Regions from separate parts of the Homo sapiens genome. Here region 2 is linked to region 1. Evidence: fine-mapped expression QTL. Tissue or cell type: whole blood. Region 1 holds a variant in brackets; the other region holds the start of a gene. All regions are shown on one strand. Distances are between the middles of the regions.

Region 1 (4,115 bases):
GGCGGGGAGATCACTTGAGGTCAGAAGTTTGAGACCAGCCTGGGCAACATAGCGAAACCCCATCTCTACCAAAGATATAAAAAATTAGCCAGGCATGGCGGCATATGCCTGTAGTCACAGCTACTTGGGAGGCTGAAGTGGGAGGATCACTTGAGTCTGGGAAGCAGAGTTTGCAGTGAGACAAGATCATGCCACTGAGCAACAGAGTGAGACCCTGTCTCAAAAAAAAAAAAAATGAAGCAGGGTCATTTGTTCTGTAGAAATTTCCATATTCTGTATTTGGGTGATTGCATCCTTGTGGTATTGAATATATTTCTCTAATCTCTGTATTTCTTATGAACTATTATATCTAGGTGAGATGCTGGCCAGTACAACTTTCTGCTCTGATGGAACCATGCTAGATCTGCGCTTCCCACTTTGTAGCCAGTGGTCATGCATTGCTATGGAGCATTCAAAATGTGGCTAAGGTAACTCAATTGTCTATTTCATTTCATTTCTTTTTTTTTTTTTTTTTTTTCCGAGACAGAGTCTCACTCTGTTGCCCAGGCTGGAGTGCAGTGGCCCAATCTCGGCTCGCTGCAACCTCTGCCTCCTGAGTTCAAGTGGTTCTCTTGCCTCAGCCTCCTGTGTAGCTGGGATTACAGGCATTCACCACCACACATGGCTAGTATTTTTTTTTTTTTTAGTAGAGATGAAGTTTCACCATGTTGGCCAGGCTGGTCTCAAACTCCTGACCTCAGGTGATCCATCCACCTCAACCTCCCAAAGTGCTTGATTACAGGCATGAGCCACCACGCCCAGCCTCATTTCATTTTAAGATTTTTTAACTTTTTTTTTTTCAAGACGGAGTCTTGCCCTGTCACCCAGGCTGGAGTGCAGTGGTGCGATCTTGGCTCACCACAACCTCTACCTGCTGGGTTCAAGCGAGTCTCCTGCTTCAGCCTCCCAAGTAGCTGGGATTACAGGTGCATGCCACCACGCCCAGCTAATTTTGTATTTTTAGTAGAGACAGGGTTTCGCCATGTTGGCCAGGCTGGTCTCGAACTCCTGACCTCCGGTGATCTGCCCGCTTTGGCCTCCCAAAGTGCTGGGATTACAGTGTGAGCCACCGTGCCTGGCCTTTAACTTTTATTTTAGATTCGGGGGTACATGCGCAGATTTGTTACATAGGTAAACTCATGTCATGGGGGTTTGCTGTATAGATTATTTCATCACCCAGGAATTACGCCCAGTATTCAATAGTTACCTTTTCTGCTCCTCTCCTCCCACCCTCCACCGTCAGATAGACCCCAGCATCTGTTGTTTCCTTCTCTGTGTTTATAAATTCTTATCATTTAGCTCCCACTTATAAGTGAGAACCTGTGTTTTCTGTTCCTGTGTTAGTTTCCTAAGGATGATGGCCTCCATCTCCATCCATGTTCCCACAAAAGACATGATCTTTTTCATGGCTGCATAATTTTATTTTAATTCATTTTAATTTTGAGTGGCTATTATATTGGACAGCACATATTCAGAGGCTTGATTGGATTCAGATTCCGCTTTCTTTGGCAAGACTACTTCACAGATGATGTTGTGTGTCCATGTACATTTTAGAATAAGTTTTAGATCTTCTGCCAGGCATGGTAACTCACGCCTGTAATCCCAGCACTTTGGGAGGCTGAGGCGGGTGGATCACTTGAGGCCAGGCATTCGAGAGCAGCCTGGCCAACATGGTGAAACCCCGTCTGTAATAAAAATACAAAAATTAGCCAGGCGTGCTGGTGCATGCCTGTAGCCCCAGCTACTTGGGAGGCTGAGGCAGGAGAATCTCTTGAACCCAGGAGGTGGAGGTTGCAGTGAGCCAAGATCGTGCCACTGCACTCCAGCCTGGG[C/T]GATAGAGCAAGACCCTGTCTCAGAAATAATAATAATAACAATAAGTTTTAGGCCTTAAAAATTCCACCTGGATTGGGGGACAGGGAATTGAAAGGTATAGGATTTCTTTCAAGATGATGAGAATATTCTGGAATTAGATAGCGGTGATGGTTGTGCAATATTATGAATATTCTAAGAACTACTGACTTACACACTTTAAAATGGTAAAAATTCTGAATGTTATGTTAGGTGAATTTTATCTCAAAAAAATTTTTTTAATTCTAATTGGAATTTTGATTGAGATTGAATTCAATAATTAGTTTATTAATTTTGTGAAATTTGGCTTCTTTGTAATATTAAGTTGGTCATTAAAGATAATGAACTTGAGCCCAGGAGTTTGTGACCAGCCTGGGCATCAATAGCCAGATCCCATCCCCAAAAAACATTTTTAAAAATTAGCCAGGCCTGGGCTGGGCGCGGTGGCTCACACCTGTAATCCCGGCACTTTGGGAGGCCGAGGCGGGTGGATCACAAGGTCAGGAGATCGAGACCTGGCTAACATGGTGAAACCCCGTCTCTACTAAAAATACAAAAAATTAGCCAGGCGTGGTGGCGGGCACCTGTAGTCCCAGCTACTCAGGAGGCTGAGGCAGGAGAATGGCGTGAACCGGGAGGCAGAGCTTGCAGTGAGCCAAGATCGCACCACTGCACTCCAGCCTGGGCAACACAGCAAGTCTCCGCCTCAAAAAAAAAAAAATTAGCCAGGCCTGTCTGGGCGTGGTGGTTCATGCCTGTAATCCCAGCACTTGGGGAGGCCGAGGCGGGCGGATCACCTGAGGTCTGGAGTTCAAGACCAGCCTGACCAACATGGAGAAACCCCATCTCTACTAAAAATACAAAAGCCAGGTGTGGTGGCGCATGCCTGTAATCCCAGCTACTCGGGAGGCTGAGGCAGGAGAGTCGCTTGAACCCAGGAGGCGGTGTTTGCGATAAGCTGAGATCGTGCCATTGCACTTCAGCCTGGGCAACAACAGTGAAACTCCATCTCAAAAAAAAAACAAAAAAAACTAGCTGGTGCCTGTAATCCCAGCTGCTTAGAAGGCTGACGTAGAAGGATTGCTTGAACCCAGGAGTTACAGCGTGCAATGAGCCATGATCACAACACTGCACTCCAGCCTGGGTGACAGAGTGAGACCTTATCTCAAAAAAAAAAAAAAAAAAAAAAAACCACTGGAAACAGCCAAGAGATCCTTCACTCATTCATACAGTGGAACGTTAATCAGCAATTCTAAAAATGAGCTATCAAGTCACAAAAAGACAAAGAAGAACCTTAACACAAAATAACACAGAGGAACCTTAAATGCATATTGCTAAGTGATAGAAGTCAGTCTCAAAAGACTATATACTGTATTATTCCATCCACATGACATTCTGGAAAAGATAAAACCATAGGGACAGTAAAAAGATTAGTGATTAGCTGGTAACAGTGGCTCCAGCCTGTAATCAATTCCAACACTTTGGGAGGACAAGGTGAGAGGATTGGTAAGCCCAGGAGTTCAAAGCTGTCCTCGAGTCTGGGCAACAGAGTGAGACCCTGTCTGGGAGGGAATAAATTTAGTGATTGCCAGGTGTTCAAGGTGGGAGGGATAAATAATGAAGAACAAAGGATGTTGAGGGTGGTGAAACCCTTCTGTATGGTACTATAATGGTACATACATGACATTGTGCATTTGTCAAAACCTATAGAACTTTACCACACTGAGTGAAACAATACAGACAAGTTTTTATCTTTATTATTCATTAATTAATTTGGTTATTTATTTTTTGAGACGGAGTCTCACTTTGTCACCCAGGCTGGAGTACAGTGGCCCAATCTTGGCTCACTGCAACCTCCACCTCTTGGGTTTCAGGCGATTCTCCTGCCTCAGCCTCCCGAGTAACTGGGATTACAGGCACCCGCCGCCATGCCTGGCTAATTTTTATATTTTTAGTAGAGATGGGTTTTCGTCATGTTGGCCAGGCTAGTCTCGAACTTCTGACCTCAAGTTATCCACCCACCTCTGTCTCCCAAAGTGCTGGGATTATAGGCATGAGCCACCACGCCCAGCTAAGGCAAATTTTTAAAAGATCATTTAGGAAGTCGGGGGAGTCCCAGGAAAAAATGCAGATGGTGGCAAGAGAATCTAACTTTTTCTTTCTAAATGTATAAAACAGCCCCACTGAAGAGGGTTGGGGAAAAAGGCGCTGACATAAGTAACTTTGGA
Region 2 (4,195 bases), 130 kb before region 1:
CCATTCTCCTGCCTCAGCTACCCAAGTAGCTGGGATCACAGGCGTGAGCTACCACACCTGGCTAATTTATTTATTTTTTATTTTCATTTTTTTTTAGTAGAAATGAGGTTTCACCATGTTGGTCAGGCTGGTTGCAAACTCCTAACCTCAGGTGATCCCCTGCCCCATCTCCCCCCACCCCCCCACCCCCAGCCTCCCACAGTGCTGGAATTACAAGCATGAGCCACCGTGCCCGGCCTGATTTTGAAATTTTTAACAGACTTTTACTCGGGAGGCTGAGGCAGAAGAATCACTTGAACCTGGAAGGCGGAGGTTGTCCAGCCTGGGAGGAGCAAGGCTCCGTCTCAAAAAAAAAAAAAAAGAAAAGAAAAAAAAGAAAAAGAAAAACAGGGCGGGCGCGGTGGCTCATGCCTGTAATCCTAACACTTTGGGAGGCCAAGGCAGGTGGATTACCTGAGGTCAGGAGTTCAAGACCAGCCTGGCCAATACGGTGAAACCCCGCCTCTACTAAAAATACAAAAAATTAGCCAGGTGCAGTGTGGCATGTGCCTGTAATCCCAGCTACTCGGGAGGCTGAGGCAGGAGAATCACTTGAATCCGGGAGGCGGAGGTTGCGGTGAGCCGAGGTTACGCCACACCACTCCAGCCTGGGTGACAGGGCGAGATTACGTCTCAAAAACAAAAACAAAACAAAACAAAAAAAACAGTTGTTCAATAAATGAATGTGAATATAGGAGAAAGACGGCTTGAGGTAGCAAAGGAACACTCCCTTGCAAATGATTCAGGCTTGGTCAACAATACACCTATTGAGTACCCACCGTGTCCTTGGCCCGTGGTGAGGGCCGAAACACAGCACATGGTAAACAAAACAGGGCTCCAGCCTTGGACAGAAGGTTTCTATAATCACTTCTAGCTGCGTTGTTCTATTTCCATACCCATATCTATTCACTTTTTATGGTACATCTATTGATTCTGAAAATTACATTTTAGCTAAGGAATCTACTCATTTGCTTAAGCCCAAAATAGGAAGTTATGATCTAGTGTCAGCAAAACGCCGGATTCACAAGTGTCCCCATGGCGCTGTTTACCCCCAAATAACTAAACCCCGCCAAATGTTGAGATTCCGGACGTGAGGGGTGCTTGGATGGGGAACCCCCGAAAGAATGGACATCACGTCCACCAGAGGGTGCTGTGGGGGCAAATTTGTGCCAGGAGGGGAGCTCGACCGGTGACCCTCAGAGCCAGGTAGGCGTAAGGAGTAAATCTCCTTCTTCCCGGTGTTTCCTTCCCACCCCCTCGAACCATTGCTGCCCCTCCCCCATACTTGGTTCCCCCTGAATAATTTGCCACTTTCGGGGACTTAAGAAGTGTTTGCTTTTGAAAGACATCTGGTTTCTGTGGCTAACGCCCAGTGGTCAGGCCGCCCAGGTCACAGGCCGGCCGGGGGCGGGCGGTGGGTGGGGACTGCTGGGGCGTCAGCGGCCCAGGCGCCGCAGGGACCGCGAAAGGGTTAACCCGGCGGGGGGAGGGGGAGGGGGCGCGGGCCGCGCCTGCGCTCTGCCGCCCTCCATTGTCTCCACGGCGGCGAGGAGCGCCGGCGAGCGCAGCCCGGGACCGAGCGGGGCGGCGCGGCTGGCGGGGCCGGCGGCGGCTGAAGCGAGAGCGCGACGCGACGCGACCGCGGCTTCCCGAGCTGCGCCTGGCCGCCCAGCGCCGCGGCCCGCCCGAGGCCTGGAGGGGTCCGGGCCGCCGTCCATGGTCGCGGCGTCCTGAGGCGGGGGACGCGCCCGGCGCCCCCGGCCCTCCTCCGCCTCCTCCCGCGGGGCGGGCGGCCTCCTCCGGCGCCTCCCCGCGCCCGCCCGCCGCTCGCCGCCGCCTCCCTCCCTCCTTCCCTGCGGCTCCCCCGGCTTTCGGAGCCCGGGGGCGGCCTGTGGCGCGCGGAGCCCGCGCCGGACTGCGCCTCTTTGGACCTTGAGGGGAAACATGCGTTTGCCTTGGATCGTTTGAAATTCTGAGTTTGGGATCCCCGCCCGCCCGCCTGCCTCTTCCGCCCCGCGGGTTTTTTCCTTTTTTCCTTTTGCTTTTTTTCCTTTTCTCCCTCCGGGTCTCCTTTTTGACTCCCTCCCCCTTTATGCTCGCCCAGCCCTCCCCCTGCTGCTGAGAAGTGGGGGAGGGTCTCGGCCTCCAGGTTCCCGCCCCACCGGGGCCCGGGCGAGCATGGGGGGCAAGCAGAGCACGGCGGCCCGCTCCCGGGGCCCCTTCCCGGGGGTCTCCACCGATGACAGCGCCGTGCCGCCGCCGGGAGGGGCGCCCCATTTCGGGCACTACCGGACGGGCGGCGGGGCCATGGGGCTGCGCAGCCGCTCGGTCAGCTCGGTGGCAGGCATGGGCATGGACCCCAGCACGGCCGGGGGGGTGCCCTTTGGCCTCTACACCCCCGCCTCCCGGGGCACCGGCGACTCCGAGAGGGCGCCCGGCGGCGGAGGGTCTGCGTCCGACTCCACCTATGCCCATGGCAATGGTTACCAGGAGACGGGCGGCGGTCACCATAGAGACGGGATGCTGTACCTGGGCTCCCGAGCCTCGCTGGCGGATGCTCTACCTCTGCACATCGCACCCAGGTGGTTCAGCTCGCATAGTGGTGAGTCCGCGGGTGGTGGAGGCCTCGGAGGGAGGGCGCGCCGGGGCGCCCCAAGCCTTCGCGTGCGTGCCAAGGTTTGGGAATGTAGTGCACGACCGGGATCTGTCTGCATTCCCTTTGGTTCCCGATGCCAAGGGATAAATGGGATACCTACCGTCTGGAAACTAGGCTTTCTGCGAGGCTGCGGAGCCTGGCGATTTAGGGACTCACGGCGTGTGTTCACTTGTGGAAGGGCAGAGCGAAGCCTACCTATTGGAGTTCCATTTATTGGCATCACCCTCCTCAGAGAAGAGGTCGTGTCTGGCTGAGAGCAAGTCAGCCTGGGTACTTCCATTCTGCCACTGCAGCACTGTGCCTGCCTCACCGGTAACGGAGAGATGGAGCCAGTTGGAGCAAGCAGTGTCTCCTAAACAGAGTGTGTGAAAATGAAATAAAATCAGGGGCAAGTGATGCCTGGATTAGGGCTCTCACTCTTGCTGGGAGAGAGAGGTGCCCAGTTTTGCCACCCTGCTGGAGATCTGTTTGAAATGTTTAAAATGGAGCAGCCGGCAGGCGGCTGGCATAGACAGGTGTGGCTGCTGTACGGAGGGCCCAGCCGGCGAGTCTCGCGGGGGCTTTGCAGGACCCGGGCTGTGGTCACCCGTACTGCATGCAGCAGGCTTGGCTCCGCGACTCTCGCCTCCCTCCATCTTTTTTTCTTCTGCTCCATGCTAAGTGCTTGGTCTTCCCGTGAATCTGCATCTTTTTGTAACAGGGAGCCTGTCACGGTGGGGCATTATTGCCTGGCTGTTGGCACATGACTGGGGAAAAGGAGGATTCAGAGAATCTGGATGAATTCATTTTATGAACTTCTGGTGACAGGCCAGCAAAAGGTTGGAGGGGGATTTCCCAGGCTCCTAGCGGGAGGGCAAAAAAGGCCTGGCAGGAGGAAAACAGGTCTGTCTGCTAGGTCAGGCATCTAGAAAATTGGCCAAAAGGGATGTGGGGGCCGCTATTTGCTAATTGGCAAGTTGAGTGATGAAGTTACATCTTAAGATTCTTTTGGGTGAGTTGGGAAAATTTAGATAGTGTAGGGGAAAGATTGCTCCTGCCTTTAGGGTACTTTATGGAGGGTAATATCTGTTGGATCACTCTTTTAACTACTGTGAAATAGGGTTGACTTTTGGGGTATCTCTTTCCCCCCCCCTGCAAATAGCCTGGGGTTTGTTTTCATTTGGTTTGGTTTTTTGTCAATTCTGTAAACTTTAATTTGTGAAATAGTGTTGGGGGAGAAACGATTAGTGACTAATTTAGGGTAACACTTAGAAGTAGCTTGTGAATTGTTAGGATGATATTTTAATCTCTGACAGACCTCCGGATATCATTGGAGCTTTTCTGACCTCATGGAACTCTGCCCTGAGTGAGAAGCAGGACATGATTGCCTTTGGCTCTTTCAGGCATTTGATCAAAATTAGGCATTTTGAAATTAATAATTTTTCCTATGGAATTTAGTCCAGAGAGTTAGCCATATTTTTGAGATGACTAGTTTGGTGTTTAAAAGAACTGTAATGAGCA

What was found. PIP is the estimated chance that this variant, and not a neighbour inherited with it, causes the effect. A credible set is the group of variants that fine-mapping cannot tell apart.
Region 2: it holds the start of ZNRF1, and the variant in region 1 is the best candidate, but not a certain one, in a credible set for the expression of ZNRF1 in whole blood (INTERVAL, PIP 0.52).

The regions. Positions count from the first base shown.
Region 1 is chr16:75,132,156-75,136,270 of GRCh38, forward strand. It overlaps a transcript of ZFP1 not described here. Among named protein-coding and RNA genes, the nearest start is that of ZFP1, 14 kb to the right of the region's middle. The variant C/T (reference allele first, on the strand shown) is at 1,872.
Region 2 is chr16:74,997,455-75,001,649 of GRCh38, forward strand. It overlaps ZNRF1 (zinc and ring finger 1), which reads left to right and starts at 1,570. Exons shown (of 5, transcript NM_032268.5): 1 at 1,570-2,641. The coding sequence starts at 2,218. RefSeq lists silencers at 1,362-1,881, 2,282-2,591 and an enhancer at 3,382-3,441.